Linked DNA regions of Homo sapiens. The protein of the gene in region 2 purifies or fractionates together with the protein of the main gene of each other region. This does not show direct contact. Each region holds a gene or a part of one and is shown on either strand. Other genes may lie near its edges. The genes, in order: AGXT2, MOV10L1 and AASDHPPT.

Region 1 (4,264 bases), on a different chromosome or scaffold from region 2:
GAGCAGGCATATATTAGGAAATTGGTACATGGGAGCACATACCCCAGCCACCTGCAAATGTTATATATTTCAGTCATTAGCTAATTGTAGGAAAGAATGCCCCACTGAGATATTTCTCCACACTTTTGTACTGAAAACAAATTGCTTCCATAACTTTGTATACACAGTTAGCCCAAAGTGATTGTGCATATCAAAGTGTAAACAAAGCTGAACATTTTATGCATATGAATATTGTACAGTAACTATGTAGATACTATACAAGAATTGTGACTTATTTATTTTTGCATATAAAACAACACTTAAAACGTGGTGACCTCCCTATCACAGCCCCTCCCCTCACCCCCATTATATTTTTCTATTCCCTTTCCAGATTTGGTTTTATTCATGGCATGTGTCTCTATTGGATACATACATAAATACATACATATTCACACACATATATATTTTTACATATTTACTTATTCATTTATGTCTATCTCCTTCCTGGAATAGAGGGCAGGAGCTTTTTCTTGCTTATTGTGGCTAAGTCTGCAGCACTGGTGCATAATAGATGCTCAAATATTTTGCCTGAATGTATATATTGCACATGGCAGGTGCTCAATAAATGTATGTTAGTGAGTGTGTGTTTGGATGAGCAAGCACAAACAGGCACAGACCTAGGTAGAGTAGGTAAGAAAGTAGACATAAAAGTCCCAAAGGTTTTTGCAAGGCCAGGTGATGAGGATAGCATTCAGTCTAGGTAGTGTGGTTTTTTTCTTTTTCTTTTTTCTTTTTTTTTTTTTTTTTTTTTGAGAAGGAGTCTCACTCTGTCGCCCAGGCTGGAGTGCAGTGGCGCAATCTCCGCTCACTGCAAGCTCCGACTCCCGGGTTCAAGCCATTCTCCTGCCTCAGCCTCCTGAGTAGCTGGAACTACAGGCGTTCGCCACCATGCCCGACTAATTTTTTGTACTTTTAGTACAGACAGGGTTTCCCCGTGTTAGCCAGGATGGTCTCGATCTCCTGACCTCGTGATCCGCCCGCCTCAGCCTCACAAAGTGCTGGGATTAGAGGTGTGAGCCACCGCACCCGGCCAGTGGTGTGGTTTTCCAAGACTGCTTCCCTGTAGTGTCCTTGCTGGGCCTATGGTAAGGCGTCGCCAACGAGTTGCTCAAGATCTCTAGGTACTAGGCCTCACCTGCCCTCTCTAGGTTACCTGCTGCTCCACTGTGCAACTCCACAATGTTCAGAGGTTGGGGTAGGGAAGGGGAGGGGGCAGTCTAGGGCATTTCTCTTGCTAGGTCAACAGCTGGTACTTTCAGCATAATTTCCTCCTCACTGAGCATAAGACTGGTTATAATTTTACCTGCTTCTGAGAAAATGTTGGAGTTAGGTGATGTTCTGGCAAAAGAAACTCATGACCAAGGGAAAAGAGCAGTCCAAACAGGATTGGAAGACTAGGGGAGGATAGACAGGGCCTGGTAGAATCTCTTCGAGTTCGGAGTCAGATAGACCTGGCTTTGAATCCCAAGTTATCACATACATGTTTCTGCCTTTGACCACATTTCTTAGATATTCCTTATTCTCTTGTCTCCTCATTTGTGGAATGAGATAATAGTACTCACTAACAAGTTTGGTTGAAGATAAAAGGAGATAATGCATTTAAAGCATCATGCATGTGTCAAGTTTCAAAAAACTGCAATTTTCAGGGGTAAGAAAGCGAAGAGGAGAGGAAGGAAGGAGGGTGAAAGGGAAATATGAGGAGAAAATGAAGGCAAAGTTGGTCACAATGGGGAATGTAAAATGGTCCCCTGTACCTGTTTACGGCCCGTGAAGCACAGGCACATAAATGTACAGACAGTTGCTTAATCTCATGTTTGCATGAGGGAATTTGCTGAGGAGGAGGTGAGGCTCTCGTGAAACAAGATCCATGTGAAAATCACAAGCATATAGGATATTACTCATAAAGCCACCAATGTCTGGTTACCCCACATCTCCTCATATTTTCTGTTCTTGCTGCAGAGAGGAGAGTCTGAGTAGATGGGGAGGGCCTGGGGTCAAGCCCTGGCTTGGATGACTCTGGGTGAATCACAGCACTTGTTGGCAATTGAGAGCGTGGTCTCACTTCCTAGAGGCATGATGAAAATTCATGCAGATGCTTTACATCTTTTAAAATAGTCATCCTAGCCTGGTGCAATGGCTTAGGCCTGCAATCCGAGCACTTTGAAAGACTGAAGTGAGAGGATTGCTTGAGCCCGGGAGTTCGAGACCAACTTGAGCAACATAGTAAAACCCCATGTCTACAAAAGTTAAAAAAGAAAAATAGCTAGGCATGGTGGCATGTGCCTATAGTTCCAGCTACTCAGGAGGCTGAGGTGGGAGAATTATTTGAGCCTTGGAGGTCAAGGCTGCAGTGAACCATGATCACACCACTGTACTCCAACCTAGGTGACAGAGGGAGACCCTGTCTCAAAAAAGAAAAAATAGAAATCATCCTTGGGCATCTGTAAATTGAAGTCACACTCTATTTTGATTGCTTTCCTTTGGTTTTTAAAAATATTGAAGCTGAGATAGCATGTCATGTTGAAATTGTGTATAGTCGGGTTTCATTATCCACGAATTTCATTTCAAAACAAAAAGGAGCATTACAAAATATTGGCTATGAAAATGGGGCATTGACTCAGGGTGAGAACCTGTGTGTCAAAAACATGCCTCATCTCTAAGACCTCACCCAGGTCTAACATTCCAGAATCCCAGGCAGCAGCCTTCGGAGCTCAAGTCTTACCCTCTCGCTGATCCTCTACTGACCCACGTCCCCCTGGTTTCCACTTACGGCTCAGGAAAGGATGCATCTCAAGGATCCTGGGAGCGGAAGTGACCAGGCACAAGGGTCTCAGCAAATGTCTCCAGATTAGAGTCATTTCTCCCACTCAGAAAGCCAACCCCCATGGAAGCAGATTGGAGGCCGGGCTCTAACTGCTCACTATCCTGCTGGACTTTGAGATTAAGATGGGGAGGAGGCGCTAAAAGGGGAATCCTGGAGTGGTGACTGCCCATGGCTTCAGGCAAGCCCCAGAGCTCTCTATTTCTAGTAACAGTGCCTTCAAGGGGGAGAAAAAGAGAGTGAGGAAAAGAGATAGAATGAAAATAGGAAGGAGAGAGAGAAGAGGAGAGAAAAGAAAGGAAAAGAAGAGAACAGAAGGGAAGAGGAAAGAAAGCAGGCAGATAAAGCAAAGGTCATCTGACAAGTTCTGTTAGTTTAATATTCCATCGGAGTTTCATCCGGGTACACTTTTCTCTGCAGGAGGGTGGTGCTGGGTGTGGGAGAAGGATCAGGACATGGTTGAAGGGGTCGGAGATTGTGAAACGAGGTATGTGACTAAGAGAGGAAAAAGGAAGATATGCATGAAGTGAATGAACAAATAAATTGGTTTTGGGGGTCTTAGAGAAAGAGAGGAGAAAACAATGGGGAAGGAGCCATTCCAAAGAAAAGCTGAGAGTACCAAATAGCTAGGTAAGGTTCTGGACAGCTGTGGATCATCTTATGTGTCTGAGGAAGGCAAAAGGTTGAGAGCTAAGGAGTTAGTGTGCCTTATTTTCATTATTTCTTAAATTCCTATTTATCCCACTCCAGCCTCCCCTTACCTTCAATCCCCATAAGCAAGTATTTAGCATGCTTATATATATCCTTTTGTTGGAACGCATTCTTGTAAAATGTGTATTGTTTAGGGTGAATGCAGTTTTAATTTATGTAAATATGTGTAATATGTCTTTTTTCTTTTCAGTTAGAACCATGTTTTTAAGATCCAACCAGGTTGCGAAGAGTACATCTCTTCTAGGTTTCCCACTGCTTCAGAATGGGGGACCACGTGCTTTACATGGCAGTGCCTAAGGGGGACAGTGACAAAGCTGATTGCAACTAGGGGGTCGAGGGACTGGGGATGGGTAGATATCATTAATCTTGGGTCACCCTGTAAGGGAGACAACTGACTTGGCCACATCCTTCACAAACACCTGCATAACAACCTTTTACTCCAAATGCCCATAGGAGGTGAAGGCACTAGGTAAGCAGAGGGAGTATGTTACATTCAATATAATTGTCCCTTTTTGTGTGGGTTTCCAGCTCCCAGTCAATTCTGCTTTGGGGGCAGTAGGGAGTGATCATATGAGCTGGCTGGTCACGTGCTGCAGGAGTAATCCAAGTCAGTGAGGCCAGTGGACACACAGCATCTCCCTGGGGTGCACAGTCTGTCCTGTGGTTGGACAGAGGGGAGAAAATGTTGAGTTC
Region 2 (3,654 bases):
TCGCCCAGGCTGGAGTGCAGTGACGCAATCTCAGCTCACTGCAAGCTCCGCCTCCTGGGTTCACGCCATTCTCCTGCCTCAGCCTCCTGAGTAGCTGGGACTACAGGCACCCACCACCACACCCAGTTAATTTTTTTGTATTTTTAGTAGAGACGGGGTTTCACCGTGTTAGCCAGGATGGTCTGGAGCTCCTGACCTCGTGATCTGCCCACCTCAGCCTCCCAAAGTGCTAGGATTACAGGTGTGAGCCACCGCGCCCGGCCTCATGTTTTTTCTATGAATTATTTTTGGGTCCTTTGTCCACATTTTTGTTGAGTTCAGCTTTTTCTTTTGTTAAAGCTTATATATTAGGGAAATCAGAGCTTTTTAAGGAAAATTATTATATGAAAGTGTTAGGAATATTTTCCCCAGGATCATCTTTGACTGTGTTTTATAGTTTCATTTTTTGTAGTTAAGTGTGCCTCTTTTCCATGTAGCTTTTGGATGCTGTAAGAAGCCTTAGGGAGGCTTATTCCACTTCTTATTCCTAATATTCAAATTTTACTCTGAAAATTGTTTATTGACAATTAGAATTTTTTTTTCAATTTTTGAGACAGAGCTTTGCGCTGTCGCCCAGGCTGGAGTATAGTAGTGCGATTATAGTTCACTGCAGCCTGGAACTCCTGAGCTCAAGCGATTCTTCCACCTCAGCCTCCTGAGTAACTGGGACCACAGGTGTACACCATCATACCTGACTAATTTTTAAAATTTTTTTGTAGAAATGGCGTCTCACTGTGTTGCGTAGGCTGATCTGAAACTCCTGGCCTCGAGTGGTCCTTCCACCTCGGCCTCCCAAAGTGTTGGGATTACAGGCATGAGCCACCATGCCTGGCCTGTTTGTTGATATTTAAATATTTGACCTGCCTGGAATTTATTTGGGTGCACAGACTGAGAGAAGGAACCAGACATTGCTTTCCTAATGGCTAGCCAGTCATCTGAGTAGCTCACTTTTTCCCTGCTGATTTGGAAAATTCCTTAATCATGTATCAGAATCCCACCTGCATGTGATGTGGTCCTGATGCTTGTAAGGGGGCCCCATGGCATGGTTGCTGTGATAGGTGGTGAGCAGGTTTCCCTTCTTTGCTCTTATTAGCATATGGTATTTTTCTGGCTCTTCACATGTTCTGGATGAGTTTGGAATCTTGTTTCTCCCCCTCTGCCCAGATTTGCTTTGGATGGCACTGAGTTTATGCATTTCATTTAGAATAATTGATATTTGGGTCATATGGAGTCTTTTCCATATGTCTGTCCATTTATTTAAGCCTTCCTTTGTATTCTTTTTATAGTTCAATAGTTTTCTTCTTTTAGGTCCTGTAAATTTCTTACTAAATTTATTTTCAGGAGTTTTTATGTGTTCTATTAACATCATTTTCCATCGTATTTTCAAATTAATCTTTTTCTTCCTGTATGGGAAAGCTTTCAATTTTTTTTTTTTTTTTTTGAGACGGAGTCTCGCTCTGTCACCCAGGCTGGAGTGCAGTGGCATGATCTTGGCTCACTGCAAGCTCCATCTTCTGGGTTCACACCATTCTCCTGCCTCAGCCTCCAGAGTAGCTGGGACTACAGGCGCCTGCCACCACGCCCAGCTAATTTTTTGTATTTTTAGTAGAGATGGGGTTTCACTGTGTTAGCCAGGATGGTCTCGATCTCCTGACCTCGTGATCCGCCACCTCGGCCTCCCAAAGTGCCGGGATTACAGGCATGAGCCACCATGCCCAGCGATTTTTAAATGTAATTTGGAATCTGGCAAACGTATTGAGCTATTAACTACTTTTTAAAAATACTTGAGATGTACTTTATTATACTATTATAGTTAGTACCATCTAATGCTTAGTATCATCTTTCTCAAATTAAAAAAAAAGCATACCCAATAAAATAATTCAAAGTCTAGAATTCCATCATTCAATATGGTAGCCACCACTCATGTGCAGCAGTTTCGATTTATTAAAACTAAATGCAACTTACAGCCAGGCGCGGTGGCATAAACCTGGAGTCCCAGCACTCGGGAGGCTGAGGCGGGAGTTCGAGACCAGCCTGGGCACATAGAGACCCTGTCTCTTAAAAATAAATAAATAAAAGTGTTTCCTCAGTTTCCCTGGCCACATTTCAAGTGCTAACTGAAGCCTAGTGACTACCAAATTGGGCAGCACACATAGAGAACATTTCTGTCAGCTCTGGCTTAGAGACTGTGAATGCAAAGTAGAAGAGCCTCCCTCCACGTTCCCCACCTGCACTTTCATGCTGCAGACCTGATGCTCTTCTGGGTTTCTGTTTCTACCTTATCTGGTAGATAGTTGAGTCACTTAAACAATATGCTTGTATCTTTTATTAATTCACCAATGTTAGTATTTATGGACTTCCATCATCAGAGATGTACAACTGGCTCATTCACACTACCCTCTTTTCCTCTCCCAATTATTTAATTATATTTTTTCCTCCAAAGATTTCCTTTTGAACTTGAAATTATACGATAGTCCTCATGTTTTTGTGTGTATTTAAAGGAGTACTCTGGGTTCAGAATCTTTGAAAGAGGATCTGGAACCCAGAACCTGTAGAGATGATGTTTACCTCATTCTCTGAGCTGTGGTCGTGTACTCACACGCGGCCTTCCAAAGCAGGTTCTCATACCAAATTCCCGTTGATTTTAAGATACACCATTAATTTGATAATGAAAATTTAAAATGGAAACGTAGGTTGTGAGACTCATTCTGATCTCAGAAATGTGACAATGTGGAAAAACTGGCCCCTGGGTGTCCAGCAAATCCCAGCCCTCTTGGTGGTCAGCTGCCCTTCACTTGTTCCATCTTGTAAGGAATGCAGGACCTTTTTTGTTATGGTGAAGAGGGTTCATCTCTACTCACAATCTTGCTTTTATAAATTAGTAATGGATTTTTCAAGTACTTTTCAGTATCTTCCAAATGATCCCATAGTTTCTGTCCCTTTGCTATTAATATGGTGGAAAATACAGTTTCTGTGTTGTGAGCCGTTCTCACTTGATGGGAATGATCCCCATTTGGTATAAACCTGAATGTACTTCTGGATTTATTTTTTATTTAGATATTTTTCTTGTGGTAAAATATGCGTAATATACCATTTTAACCATATTGAAATGTACGGTTCAGTGGCATTAAGCACGTTCACATTGTTGCGCAGCCATCACCACAATCTGTCTTCAGCACTTTTTCAGCATCCCAGTAGACACTCTGTACCCATTAAACAGTTATTCAGTGTTCTACTTTATGTCTCTATGAATTTGCCCATTCTAAATACCTCATATAAGCGGAATCATGTGTCTGGCTATTTGACTTCTGTTTTCAAGATTTGCCCATGTAGCATGTATCAAAAGTTAATTCCTTTTTTATGGCTGAATATTCCATTGTGTGAATAAATCACATTTTGTTTCTCCATTCATCTGTTGATGGACACTTGGGTTGTTTCTACTTTTTGGTTGTTGTGAATTGTGCTGCCATGAACAAGTCTGTCTGAGTCCTTGTTCAGTTCTTTTGGGGCTACGCCTAGGAAGAGAATTGCTGGGCTGTATGGTAAGTCTAGGTTTAACTTTGTGAGGAACCAGATGTTTTCCACAGCAGCTGCACCGTTATATGTTCCCACCAA
Region 3 (3,654 bases), on a different chromosome or scaffold from region 2:
GGCCCTGAGGTTCTGGATTTTTTTCCGTAGGCCTGAAATAGTTGCTCAAGGCATTGGATCTAAATGATTTTGTTGTATGTTACTACTGTGTTTAAAATAAAACATTAGTTGCTGGGTGGTCTTGATTAGTTAATCATTCCAGAATACAATATCTAACACTGCTCTCCCTAATGATCAAGCTATAAGATGGAAGATCAGGTTTTTCTAAATTTGACTGATGATTCTCTGTGTATGTAATGGTATTATTAGAACTTGCCAACGTATGTGCAGTAATTGTGCTGTCTTCAAATAGTTTAAGGGACAAATTCACTGTTCTTCCTACCGATTTTTCTTTATTCCAGTTTCCTAGGTAAACTGCACTTAATACTTAACACAATATTTGCCCACTGTATATCCACCATAATGCCACAGTGTGGCGCTGCTGTGCTTTGGCCGAATATTTACGAAATCACCTTTTCCTATTGCTGTCAAATTTTTTATTTTGTGGACTAAATAAGATGCTCTAAAGTATATGAAAACGCACTCGTATCGGATATTTTTTGGCTGTACATAATGAGTTATGTGATTGCTTTCTAGTGATTGTGCCAGATTGATTGCCTTTTATGTTAATCAGTTTTTTAATAGCATGCTTATTTAAATTTTTTTCCTTGATTGCCCCATCTTATTTAGTTAAAAATCAGAAGGCTTCTTGGAGGTTATAAAAATAAAATTTGAAGAAAGCAGCAAGCAGAATGACACTATAGATGACAAAATGCGTATCTTTTTAAATGCAGATTTTTTGGACATTAATCTGTTAAAACTACAGTTTCACTCAAAATATATAATGCAGGCTTCCAAACCAAAAATAGTTTATTCCTCCCATTATTGTTACATATGCTGTTTGTGCCAAAATCCATTCAACAAGAAACAGTTTTTGATTTTTGTAGATATAGTGTTCCCAATGTTTAAAATTTCCAGATTTACTTTTGTTACTTCAGAAGCTTTCTGTCTTTACTTTCTTTGAAGTGTTCTTTAAGATGTTACTTATCAAGCCAGTATGTACTATTGATGCATTGAACAAAAAAGTTTTTATTGAGGGGCTTCTATTAATGTTAGTCTCAGGAAGGTGTTGAGGAGTAAACACCAGACAACAAAGGGATCCATGGCCCCAAAAGGGGTAAGAATTTCTTGCCATTGAACTCTTAAGATCACAATTTAATATTTCGGTGCCTAAAAATGAATGAGGATTCTTATTTTGATCCATAGTACCACATATCAGCAACAGGATCGGCAGAAATACTTCCTGATGAACTAAGAGGAGACTATTTTGACTCTTGAAGCGGGAGTACTGGGAGAATCATAACTATTTCATGACAGAACCGATTTTTAATATACTCTACCCTTGAGATGATTGTGGGAAAGGTATTTGGTTACTGCAGGAGAAACTGTAAACTCTCTGTGAAGATAAGGACCATGTCTGTTTTGCTCATCATGCGGTTCGTGGTACCTAGCACTTGTATGCTTTTAGTGAGTGATCATAATGGAATTCTAATTGTTGAATTCTCATAGAGAGAATTAGTGATTAAATGCCAGTGAAGTATTAAGGGGATGTTCAACATCTTCAACATCTTTTTTCTCCACATATTTATTTACATAAGAAATGCCCATAGAGTGTGTGGTATCAGCTATCATAAGAATTGTGTTAATCATTTGAGAATGTCAAATTTTGGAGTTGGTTATTTTAGAAGTGGGAATTGGAGTAAGCCCATATTAACAGAATCCACAAAGGGATTACCTTCAAAAGGTTTTCTGGAAAATAATGTAATAATGAACTAAGGATACAGGGCAGAAGAATATTTAGGAAATAATTTACCATATAATAGTTAACATTCATGTATACACTTAGTAAATGTTTGTGGTTCACTTACCTTGGAACAGGCTCTCTGATAGGCCCATTAGGCTGTAAGTATAAAAGGCAAGAACAGTGATCAATTTACTTTTAATATTAGTTGAATATGTATTTGTGTAAATATTTATACATATTATGCATATTTATATAAAATGAATGATGGTAGAAAGTTTGTGCTTGGTGGTAAAGACACACAAACACATAATTTTAATGTTTTGGAAAATTCAGTACCAGAGGCCTACCATGAATTTTAACATGTATCTTACCCCTTGGTTCTGGGAATCAGATCCTTTGAGTTGTATCTTTTGTCATTTATTTTTAGAATGCTATGTAATATTTTGTTATCTATGAAATAGTGGCACTAAAGATATATTTCAAGTTTTTAAAAATGAGCTTATTTTGCAACTGCAACCACGAAAGAGTAATGAAAATCTTTTTATTTGAATAAGTCATATTAGAAAACAAGTTGGAAAACATTTTGAAGAAGGTATTAATTTTTTAGCCGTGGCAATAATGTAGAATAAAAGAACAGTTTTCAGCTTTCTGCTAATTTTCCAAAAATTGTAATAAAAGAATTATTCCCTTTTTTTCTCTGTTACATAACAAAATAAAACTTTAGAATAATATGGCTCTACTTTAGGAGTATTTTAATTGGGCTTCTGATAAGTATCCTTTTATATAAGAAATTTCCTGTTATTTAAAATTTATAACAGCTTTGGCTGCTAAATTTTATCAAAACTTTTTGGGACATATATTGATACAACCATATGGTTTTCCTGCTTACTTAATAATTTACAGAATATCACCAATTCCTGTTAAACTACTCTTATATTTCTGGGCTAACCACTGCTTGTCATAGTGTGTTTACTCTTTTAATTTTCAACTTGCTTTGACTTGCCGAGATTTTGTTTAGGATTATTTTAAATGTATTCAAAAGTATGGTTGCCCTTTAGATCTTTGGGGGGTGCTGTCTTGAACAGTTTTAGTAATAGAGCAACTTTTTATTTTTTAATAGAACTGCTATTTAATTTTTTATTTCTTAATTGGCAGGTCGTGGTTCAATTCCAGAATTCTTTCATATTATGAAAAGAAAGTTTACCAACAAAGAATGGGAAACAATCAGAAGCTTTAAGGATGAGTGGACTCAGCTGGATATGTTTTATAGGAATTGGGTATAATTCTTTCTAATTTTGAAAGCAAAAGTCTATAATGATTCCATTATCTTCACTTAAAATCAGAGTCCTTGGTTACCCAGTAGTGTCCAAACAGTGCTTGAAGTAAATGGGTGATTGCTTGAGAATTTTATGGTTTTTATGCATATGGTATTACATTATAATGACATTTCATTTTAAGAAAATTTAACCTATATGTAATGCTCAGTTAGAAAGTACTTACTTAAAGCTAAAACAAATCATTACCATTGATAAATAATATTTTCTGTCATAAAGGAACTAATACACATGAGGTCCTATATAACAAACACTGATAATATATACTACATGCCAGAAGACATTACTTCAAGCTCTAAGTTAGTTAATTTAATGTACATAACATCCCTATGAGGAAGGTATTGTTATCATCATCGCAGGTTACATACGAGGGGATACAGGCACGGAGAGCTTAAATGATTTGCCCTAAGATCATATGGATGGTTTGTTTTCATGCTGTAAGGGTTTTTTTTTAAAAAGGTTATAGCTATATAGCCATAATGTAGTATAGCATTGAAACTCCCTATCTTTTGGACCTGTAGATTCTATGAAAAATTT

Evidence for each region.
Region 1: the proteins of MOV10L1 (region 2) and AGXT2 purify together in Homo sapiens (affinity purification with mass spectrometry; one large-scale study listed by BioGRID and IntAct). This does not show direct contact.
Region 3: the proteins of MOV10L1 (region 2) and AASDHPPT fractionate together in Homo sapiens (co-fractionation; one large-scale study listed by BioGRID). This does not show direct contact.

What each region holds. Positions count from the first base shown.
Region 1 is NC_000005.10:35,044,996-35,049,259, forward strand, and holds the start of AGXT2 (alanine--glyoxylate aminotransferase 2, mitochondrial isoform a precursor), read right to left. Parts: upstream 2,955-4,264; 5' UTR 2,898-2,954; coding exon 2,810-2,897; intron 1-2,809. UniProt on the Homo sapiens protein: Multifunctional aminotransferase with a broad substrate specificity. Catalyzes the conversion of glyoxylate to glycine using alanine as the amino donor.
Region 2 is NC_000022.11:50,092,938-50,096,591, forward strand, and holds part of MOV10L1 (RNA helicase Mov10l1), read left to right. Parts: intron 1-3,654. UniProt on the Homo sapiens protein: ATP-dependent RNA helicase required during spermatogenesis to repress transposable elements and prevent their mobilization, which is essential for germline integrity.
Region 3 is NC_000011.10:106,087,619-106,091,272, forward strand, and holds part of AASDHPPT (L-aminoadipate-semialdehyde dehydrogenase-phosphopantetheinyl transferase), read left to right. Parts: intron 1-2,938; coding exon 2,939-3,060; intron 3,061-3,654. UniProt on the Homo sapiens protein: Catalyzes the post-translational modification of target proteins by phosphopantetheine.